Linked DNA regions of Homo sapiens: region 2 is linked to region 1. Evidence: fine-mapped expression QTL. A gene starts in region 1. The other region holds a variant in brackets. All regions are shown on one strand. Distances are between the middles of the regions. Region 1 holds the start of CD99L2 (CD99 molecule like 2). Region 2 overlaps CD99L2 (CD99 molecule like 2).

Region 1 (5,378 bases):
GGAGAATTGCTTGAACCCAGGAGGCGAAGGTTGCGGTGAGCCGAGATCAGGCCACTGCACTCCAGCCTGAGCAACAGAGCTAGACTCCGTCTCAAAAAAATTAATTAATTAATTAAAAATAATTTAAACAATAAAAGATAACTGGGTAGCAGTCTTATCTGGGTTGAATCCTGGCTCTATGTCTTCTGAGCTATATGACCAGGGCCCCCTCATCTGAAAGCCAGTGATAATATCTAGCCTGCAAAATTGTCGAGGCAATTTAAAGCAATATATGTGAAGTGCCTGGCACACAGGAAGAACTCAGGAGATGGTAGCTGGTAGCAAGGCTGTAGATCTAAGCCTGGTCCCCTCAAAACACCTTTGTGATTGTCAGGCATCATATGGATGATCAAACAAGTTCGGGGAACTCATTTTCCCATGGTCCCTAAGTAGTCGAAGTGGGGTACCTCCAGGTGCAAGGGCATATGCCTAGGGCTTAAAGGCAGTGACTGCGCAGTCAGACAAGCCTTGCATCAAATCATAATTCTGGCAATCGCTGTGTGACCTAAGGCAAGTTACTTCACCTCTCTGTGCCTCTGTTTCCTCATCTATAAAACAGATGTACTGTTTCTGTCTCCTCTACCACCTCTTAAATCAACAATTGTAACGTGCAAATCTGAGACCCAATCATTTCTATTCCCCACCTTCTCAACGGGCACACCATGTTGAAGACTTTCAGAAGACAGCTTTGAAGGGAGTATCATTTTTCTAACTTTTTTTGTGCTTCTACTTTCAAGATTTCCATGTCATTAGATGCAAGTCAATCAAATGATCATACATTTTCCTACAAATGCATTGTAAACAAAATAAAAATTTTATCCCAAAGGGAAAATGAAAAAGAAAATTCAACAACTCTTTACCCCTGTAACTTCCTTTATTTTTCTCCATAGCACTGACAATATATATAGATTTCAATGTTGGGCTTGTTTTCTGCCCGGACCAGGATGTAAGCTCCATGAAGACAGTCTCAATTTTGTTCACTACCGCATCATCAGTTCCTAGAACAGAGCCTGGCACCTCTGCAGAATGTTAAATGGCTCTTCGTGAATCAACTCCAGGTGGGTTGCCCACATGAAAAACATTTCTGCATCTTTTGCAAAAGTGGCTTGGCTAGTACCATCCACTGTTTTCCAGTGTTCCTTTATGTGACATAAATCTTACTAGAACTCAGTACTAGGACAAAGTGTGTGTGTGTGTGTGTGTGTGTGTGTGTTTCCTGAGCTCACATATTTTCCACCAGCTGGGTTCGCTTCTATTGTCAGGAAGCTTGGAGCATAATTCACGTTCAATTACAGTGTTTCCCTTAATCCCTTTTTCTGATGGGGACATAGGATATAAATAAGTGTAAGAAGATTCTGTTGGTACATGTTTAAGACCCTATTTTTAACCACAGACTGCATTTATTCTACTAAGATGCTTCTCAAACTTGAATGTGCCAGAGAATCACCCGCGGATCTAGTTGAAATGCAGAATCAGACTCAGTAGGTCGGGGGCGGGGCGTGAGATGCTGCAGTTCTTACAAGCTCCCAGGTGATGCCTATGCGGCTGGGCCCTGGACCACATTTTGAGTAGCAGAGGGTCTAAGAAACGTGCTTCCTTGATTCAGCGGGATTTCTCTCTCCTGCTCCTTGGCAAAACATGACCAAAGTCTCAAAAACTGAAGCGGACGGCAGAAGCACCTAGAGAGCTGGTTAGACCTACGCCTCGCTGACCCCCCCCCCCCCCCCCCACAGCCCATGCCCGCTGTGATCCCGATGAAAGGGGCTAGGAATCCACCTAGGAAGTTCCCCAGGTGCTTCTGCTGTCGGTGGCCTCGCAGCAAATTTCGAAAATGACTGCTCTCTTCAAGGTTTTCTCAAAGGTAAACTCTTGGGGACAGCTGTTGTCACCAGTGGTACACCTGCTCGTTCAGGATTTTAGGGGGCCCATCCCGCTGTTTCCAGCCCAGCGTCAGGAGGGGACCCACCCCTCCTCTCCGGCTACTCCGACCGCGGCGGAGTCAACCCCCACGGGCCCGGGGCTCGGACCCCCGCCGCTCCGCCTCGCACAGCCGGGCCGGCCGGTGGCAGCCACCGCAGGCCCGAGAGGCGGGGACCGTGCCGCTCATGCGCAGAGCGACCCCTGGGCCCACAAGGCGGGGTCCCCGCGCGGTCCCCGCGCGCCCCCCGCCCGCCTTACCTCGCTGGACCAGGGTGGCCAAGGAGAAAGCGAGGCAGACAAGGAACGCCGAGCGCCAGGCCACCATGGCTGGGAGCAGGCGGAGGGCCCCGGAGGAGCACAGTTAGCGCGAGAGCGCCCGAAGGGGAGGCCGAGGAGGAGCGGGAGGAGGAGCCCCGCCGCCTCTGCAGGGTCCCGCCCAAAGCCCGCGCGCGCGCGCGGCGCGGCCCCGGGAAGATGGAGGTCGGGCGCGCTAGAGAGCCGGCGCCTGAGGGCGCCTGGGCTGGGGTTAGGCCGGGGGGCGGGGCGAGGCTGCAGTATCGGGGGCGGGGCCGCGTTCTGGAGGCGGGGCTCCGGGCGAGGGGCGTGGCCTGCGGGCACCCGGTGGGTGGGGAGGCCTGGGTTGGGTTGGGCTGGGTCCAGCGGCAGCGCGCGGTCCGCAGACCCTGTCCCACCTCGGTCCTCGAGACCGAAGTCTCGGAGGTGGCCCCGCGGACCTGGAGCAGTGAGTCACCAGTGCCGGGGAGCGGGAGGCGGCAGCGCCGGTGGGCGCCGATTTCCTCCCGGGTGACCTTGAGAAGGGCTCTTCCCCTTCTGGCCTTGGTGTTCTCCCGGTGAAGGGTTGTTCCCTTGGGGCCCCTCCAGACACCGTCCAGCACGGAGCCCCGCACTCTGTCCCCACCCGCTGTTCCCTGCAGGAGTGAAACCCTGGCCGGAGACTGAAGAAAAGGACCGTTTTCGTGACTGGCTGCGGTCAACAAGCAGTGACACGTCTCGAGAAAACGAGGCCGGGGGCGCCCGGGTGGGCGACAGGGGAGGATGGGGGCGTCCCGGAGCCGAAGCGCCGCGGGCTCGGGAGACTGGGGGTAGGGACTGGGTCAGCTCTCCCGAGGCTTTGATGAATGCGCTGAAAGTGCAAGTTCATATCTGCAGAGTCGATCTCAAAAACGTGCTTAATGACCGACAAACGCGCTGCAGTCCTTTCCCATGAACCCCCGCAAACGGAGTCCGTCTCCCAGACCCGAAGAAATCAGATTCCGATACGATACTGTGCCGACCAGCAAAATGCCCGCTGCAGCAGTTGATGGGAACGCTCCCTAGAAGAGCCCCAGCTGCAACCGGCTCTCGAAGACAAAGAGGAAGCGCTACTGCTCTCCGGAGTGGTAGCGTGAGCCTGTCCCTGCCATTATGCGGCACCGGCTGCCCAGGGCCACATCCTCCTTAGAGGGCGGCTACTACCACCTCCCCTCAATATCCATTCGGCAGCTTTCCTGTGCCCCCAACCCAGCCCTCGCTGCCATAGGCACCCCCCTCAGTGGCTCCCACCAACCCCTAAGGAACAGTGGGGTGTGGGGTCTCCCTGAGATGGAGCCGAAATCTCCCGTGTGGCTTACATCCATTGCCCTGAATCTTAGGGCTGCAGAAACAAAACAGCATATGAGGAGTGGATCTTCCCAGGCTCAGGGCATTAATTACTCTATGAATGGAACATTATTCCATTCTAGCTGTAGAATTAACAGAAATAGCTGGTAGTTATTGAACACACACTATACACATGGCATATTCCAGGCATTTTACCCTTAATTTTTATTCCTCACAATGCCTTATGTATCATCACCTATTAACGAGGGAAAAGCAGCAAAATGGAGGTTCCTTGAGGTTGGGGAGTTAGCCAGGTCTAGTCTCATGTGTCAAAGGGGGAGGGTACCACTAGGAACCCCAGCTGGTGAATGGCTAAGAATGTGTGCTGTAGAGCCAGACCGGGTACAAATCCTGGCTAAACCCAACAAGGTTGTGCTAAGGATTAAATGAGGTGGTGAAAAGTGGACAGCCTGCACACAGTGACAGAGGGCAGGGACCATTACTGGTTAATCTAGTAACGGCTAAGGAAATAGTGGCCACTGTGAGGTCAGGAGGTTACTGTCTATTCCAGGCTGTGGACATGCCCCCACCTTTGCTACTAAGTGCCCTGAGCCATTCCATAGGCCCTGGTGGTACCATCTGTACCTGGAGGGCAGTAGATTTTCTGGTCTTTAGGAGTCTTCCAGGATCTGATGGGTAAACCCTGATGCATACACACTCATCTACACTGAGGAGGTGAGAAGCATGTAACCTCTTAAGTTTGAGGCCATGTCAATCAATATGCAGTGGACAGTCACACTCAACTGGAACTCTAGCTGCTAAAGGTGCTACAATGCCATATGCAATAAGACTGTCTTCTAGCTCAAGAATAGTTCTCAAACTACACCCCGTGGGCTAAATCCTACTCCCACCTGTTTGTTCAGCCTTCCAGCTAAAAGTAGTGGTTGCATTTTTAAATGGTTGAAAAAAATCAAAAGAATGTTATGACATGAGAAAGTGATACAACATTCAAATTTCAGGGTTCATGAAGTTTATGAGAACACAGCCACGCCCATTGATTTTTGTATTCCCTATGGTGGCTTTTGTGCTGCCACAGTGGAGTTGAACAGTTGTGATAGAGACCATGGGGCACACAAAGCCTAAAATATTTACTGTCTAACCCTTACAGAAAAAGTTTACTGACCTCCGTTCTAGCAGATTGAACCATGGCAAGGATGAACATTAGCAGGTGATGATATGGGACCTTAAGAGTGTGCTCCTCTAAAGCGCAAAATGAACATAGATGACCTGCTCTGACACAGGAATAAGAACCAAAAGAAAAGGACAATGTTTATCATTGTGGCCAAAAGATACTCACAAATAGTTCCTTAATCAAAATATTGCAAATGTCCGAGATGGATTATCCTACCAGATACCTCTCCCTTTGTAAAATAGCTTATCTTGGGCCTGGTTTGTCTCTCAGTCTCTTGTAAGTTAGGTTAATGTGAGTTAGAGAGGGCTGATTTGCCTGCCAGACTGAAGACCTGCTGGGAACTTAGTGAGCCTCTCAGTCAGGTACTGCTATCCTGCTGAATTGCAATTAAACATGCAGTTGATTTACATACAGGAAATTGTACACTTAAAAACTATGATCTGGGAGCACCTCCCCAACTTAGTTTGGAAGTGTATTTCCCAGGAGAAAAAAAATTATTATTAAAAAAATTTTTTCAAAGCCATTATCTGTGCTCCCCGCCCCCACACATCATCTATACTCCCCACTGCCAATGCACATGGGTTCAGGGACCCACTCTTGCCCAAGCCTGCCTCGTCTACACACCACT
Region 2 (5,378 bases), 45 kb before region 1:
TGAGACAGCTGTATTTTCTATTGGTGCTATAACAAATTCCCACATAGTGGCTCAAAACAGGACAATTTTATGACCTTGCAGTTCCAGAGATCAGAAGTCTAAAATGGGTGGCCCTGGGTTAAAACCGGGGCACCAGCAGGCTGTGTTCCTTCTGAAGCTTCCAATCCATTTCCTTGCCTTTGCCAGCTTCTGGAGGTCACCTGCATTCCTTACTTAGCTCATGGCTCTTTCTCCATTTTCAAAGTATATCACTCCAAACCCTGCTTCTATAATCACATCTACCTCCCTCTTTGACATATCAGGCCCCCTTTGATCACATTGGGCCCACTTGGATAATCCAGGACAATTTCCCATCTTAAGATCCATAACTTAGCCCTATTTGAAAGTCCCGTTTGCCATGTAACGTCACATATTCACAGGTCCCAGAGATTAGGATGTGGACCTCTGAGCAGGGAGGGAACATTAGTCTACTGACCACAACAGCCAATAACCATCATCTGTTTTACTGTTTCAAGCATTTAAATTGTTCACTACTGCTTGGATGAAAGAACTCTTCTCCACATCATTACTCCAGAGTGAAAATCCACTTTATGCTGGGTAGTTAAGGAAGGTGTGCCAGGGTGGTGAACTTACACTAAAAGGGGCCAACTCTGGAGTTGCAGAAGTGCATTTGGCCAAAACAACATTTTTAGAAGTTCGCTCTGTTGTGTGGAGACTTGTTTGTAGGAGGCCAGTTGGGGAGCTGTGGTTGTTTTCCAAACCTGTAAGGACAATGGCTGAGCACAGGATGACAGCTCCCCATCACACCCTGGACCTCTGGACTTCACTTGGTTGCTAAACTTCAGCAGGCTCTATCCCACCTCAGGGCCCTCAGGGGTCCCTCTGCCCGGAAGACTCCTCCCATCTCTTCCCTTCACTAAATTCTGCTTGGGCACCTCAGACTCCTTTTTGAACAGCTTTGTTGAAAGTGTGAAATTCAGTGATTTCTAGTATATTCACAATGTTGTGTAACCATCACCTATCATTTTCCACATTTCCATCACCCCAAAGGGAAAACCCGGACTCATTAAACAGTCCATCCTCCTCATCATCCCTCCCCCAGCCCCCAGCAACCACTAATCTCCTTTCTGTCTCTATAGATTTGCCTGCTCTGGTCACCTCAGATGAATGGAATCATCCAGTACATGCTCTTTCATGACTGGCTTCTTTCACTCAGCATGTCTTCAAGCTTCATCCATGTTGGAGCATAGATCCGAATTTCCTTCCTTCTTATGGCTGAAAAAAGTCCACTGAATGAGTAGACTATATTTTGTTCATCCATTCATCAGTTGATGGTCATTTGGGGTTTTCTTTCACTTTTTGCTATAATTATAAGTAGTGCTCTGTGAACATGTACAGCCGGGTTTTCAGTTTTCTTGGGTCTATATGTAGGAGTGGAATGACTACTTTGACAGTAAAATACAATAAGCAATCACCACGGAAGTTTCTGAAATCCATTCATGCTGCACGATCCTGCTGCTTATCACTGACCCCTCTTGACTCCCAGTCCTCAGGGAGGTATACAGGGGACTACTACCCCACCATTCACAGCCACTTTAGGCCGTGTCACCCAGACTTGCACCTTCAGACAGACACAAGAACACACGTAAGTGCACCTAGACATACTCCAGCAAGTGAAATGATACGTGTATAGGATGAAGCCAAGAAATGGAAAAGTTTTACCCACACATATTTGGAAATTATTTAGGAAGAAGAGCTCTGAACACTGTAACCTGCTCTGACATCCATGCTGTGTGGTGGTGGGGCAGCAAAGAGCACACATGCTAAAATCAGATCATCTGGGTGACAGTCCTGCCTCAAACCCCCCACCCACCCACTTCACTGCTGGGCACCTCAGTTTCCTTGCCTGTAAAATGAAGATGATAAAACAGTCCCTGCTGCATCGGGCTCTTGTGAGGACTCAGTGAGCTGGCACAGGTAAAGCATAGTGTTCGATAAGCGTGCACAGTCCTCCCCTTCCCCTAGGAGCTTCCAGCAGTCAAGGCCAGTCAGTTCTCCTAGTTTACAGCTCTGCCAAAATAGACCTAGCAAGAAGGGGTCTTCTCAAGGTCACTCAGCTGGTTGGCACAGGTCTGCGACTATAATCTCTTTAATGATA[A/T]AAAAGCACAACGAAACTCCCTTGGGAAGACGAACTTCAGAAGTGATAAGCCTTTTCTACAGCACAAGCAGCAATGCAAGCCCCATTTAGCTGAAACAATCCAGTGCACCATGTTCAAACCATTCAAGAGTAATAACAAATCTGTGTTCAGTCCCCCATTTGGCAATCACTGCTATTACCATGAAGGTCCAATCCCAGAGACATACCTGAGAAGGATATGCCTGAGAGATGTTCCAGTATGATATGACAAAAAAGGAGGAGAAAAATCCAAGTAGCAGAGAATGGCTAATGAGCTATGAAGTTACAGTCAGATAGGCAAGATGTACCTCCTTTGGGAGCCCTTCTCTGATGTGTCCCCTCCACACCATCAAAACACCAGGTGTAATATCATCAGCTTGGCTCTTGCAACCCCCACATAACAGGAGCCCATGGGGCAGTGAGGAGACCAGTCCTCTTTCTTGTCCTAGTCCTGAGCCCAGAGCCTGGGCCCAGAGAATGCATACTTCAACTTTCGCTCTACTCGTAAAACAAGCGGCCCACCAAGTGCTTTTCCCAATAGCAAGCCACTCTTGAAATAATTTAATCTGAAATTATCCTGTCTGTTTTACCTGCCTACTCTGTCTGCCTCCACTTTGGGTCATTTAATTATTGCTACCCATAACAAGATGCAAAACTGCTTAGGAATTCCCTGGGTGCTGGTTGGCTGGGGACTTGTTGGCAGCTAACCCACAAAGTCTTTCCTTAGCATAGGCAAAGAATGATGCCTTATACTTTTTGTTATGGGCTGAATTGTGCCCCCTCCCAATTCATACATTGAAATCCTAACTCCTATTAATTTAGAATATGACCATATTTGGAGAGAGGGTCTTAACAGAGGTAATCAAGTTAAAATGAAGTCATTAGGGTGGGCTCTAATTCGTTATGACTGCTATCTTGGGCATTTGAACACAGACGCACACAGAGAGAGAAGACAATGTGAAGAGACACAGAGAGAAGATGGATACTGATAAGCTCAGAAGAGCGGCCTGGAACAGATTCTGTCTCACAACCCTCAGAAGGAACCAACCCTGCCAACACCTTGACCTCAGATTTCCAGCCTCCAGAATCATGAGATTATACATACCTGCTGCAGAGGCCCCCGATTATGTGGCATTTCATGACAGTAGCTCTAGGAAACTAACATAGCCTTCATGGCTCCCTGTGGCTGCCTGCTGCCCCCCCTCCCCCCGGTGGTTCACTGCAGCTGGTACAATAAGGGAGGAAAGGGGACCCATGGAAACAGACAGATGGCCTAAAGAAGACATCTGCCTCTCTGCCAGGAACCTGAGCAATCGTGAGGAAGTGACTTTGCTGCTCTGTGCTCTCCATATGTAAGATGGAAGTAACACCTGCTGCCATGCACAATCACTACTGACTGGTGCATGACTGGTTATTGCTGTGGTTTGTACTGTGTCTCCCAGAAGGAAATGTTCAAATCTGAACACCTGGTACCTGTGAATGTGACTTTATTTGGAAATAGGGTCACTACAGATGTAATGAGTTAAGGTGAGGTCATACTGGAGTGGAGTGGGTCCCATATCCAGTGTGGCTGGTTGTATTAGTCCATTCTTGCCTTGCTATAAAGAACTACCTGAGACTACATAATTTATGAAGAAAAGAGGTTAAATTGATTCACAGTTCCATAGGCTATGCAGGAAGCATGGCTGGGGAGGCCTCAGGAAACTTACAGTCATGGTGGTAGGTAAAGGGGAAGCAGGCACATCTTCACATGGTGGAGCAGGAGAGAGACTGTGAGGGGGGAAGTGCCACACACTTTTAAACCATGAGATCTCGTGATAACTCACTCACTATCATGAGAACAATGAGGGGGAAATCCGTCCCCATGATCAAATCACCTCTTACCAGGTCCCTCCTCCAATGCTGAGGATCACAATGAGACATGAGATTTGACTGAGGACACAAATCCAAACCATATCACTGGTGTCCTTATAAGAAGAGCAAAAGATAGAGGCACACAAGGGAGAACTCCATGTGAACATGGAGGCAGAGATTGAAGTGATGTAGCTGCAGGCCAAGGAACACCAAGGATCGCTACCAGCAGCTAACGGGGGCAAGAAAGGACCCTCCCATACAGCTATCAGAGGGATTGTGCCCTGCTAACACCTTGATCTCTGAATTCTAGGCTCCAGAACTGTGGGAGAATGCATCTTTGTTGTTTTGAATCACATCATTTGTGGTACATTGTAATGGCAGCCCCAGGAAACTCATACAGTCACTTAAATCCAAATTCATGGGCCTGGCACACAAGTCCCTCCCCAGTCTGGCCCTGACCTGCCACTTTTAAATTCTTCCCTATCATTCCCCACTGCACACATTCTGTATGCCCTGGCTGTGGTGATTCCCTGAAGGACAAACCTTGCCCACACTTTGGCATCTGCCATTTCCTGGGTCTGAAGCGTCCTTCTTTGTATTTTATGCCCAAGGATAGTTATTGCCTAAATTGAACATCATATCCTCTAGGAAGCCTCAGCCCACCCCACCAGACAGAGGACAATTTCCTCCTGTGTATCACACCACATTCCTGTGGTGGTTCTTGGCAAACAGAATATTCTAACTTCCATTCATGGCTAACTTCTCTACAGAACGGAGGTCTGAGAGGCTTGAGGCCACAGCACCTAAGGCAAGGCCAGGTGTACCACATGCCGACTGGGCACTCAGCATGCTTGTTACATGAAGTCACCTGGCCCAGCATTTTTCAGTAACACCAAAATGTTCCAGAGGAGGCTTTCCTCATCTGAGAGGAAAAGAAATGAATGATGGACATACAAAATGACATGAATGAATCTCAGAATAATTATGCTGAGTGACAGAAGCCAGGCTAAAATAATAATAATAATAATAATAATAATAATAAAGACTACACGCTGTGTGATCCCATTTCTATAAAACTCTAGAAAACAAACTATAGTGAGAGAAAACAGATCAGACATCAATGTAAAGACACAGAAAACATGAAAATGCAAGGAAGTATGACACGCCAAAGGAATACCATAATTCTCCAAAAAGAAACCCCAATAAAAAAGAAATTCATGAAATCCCAGAAAAAGAATTCAAATCATTGATTCTAAAGAAGTTCAGTGAGATACAAAAGAATTCCAAAAATCAAAACAAAGAAATCAGTAAGACAATTCAGGATATAAATGAGAAATTTACCACAGAG

Evidence for each region. PIP is the estimated chance that this variant, and not a neighbour inherited with it, causes the effect.
Region 2: its variant is the best candidate, but not a certain one, in a credible set for the expression of CD99L2 in lung (TOPMed, PIP 0.66).

What each region holds. Positions count from the first base shown.
Region 1 is chrX:150,896,305-150,901,682 of GRCh38, forward strand. It overlaps CD99L2 (CD99 molecule like 2), which reads right to left and starts at 2,364. Exons shown (of 11, transcript NM_031462.4): 1 at 2,218-2,364. The coding sequence starts at 2,284. RefSeq lists a silencer at 2,039-2,648.
Region 2 is chrX:150,851,530-150,856,907 of GRCh38, forward strand. All of the region lies in intron 1 of CD99L2 (CD99 molecule like 2), which reads right to left. Among named protein-coding and RNA genes, the nearest start is that of CD99L2, 44 kb to the right of the region's middle. The variant A/T (reference allele first, on the strand shown) is at 2,159.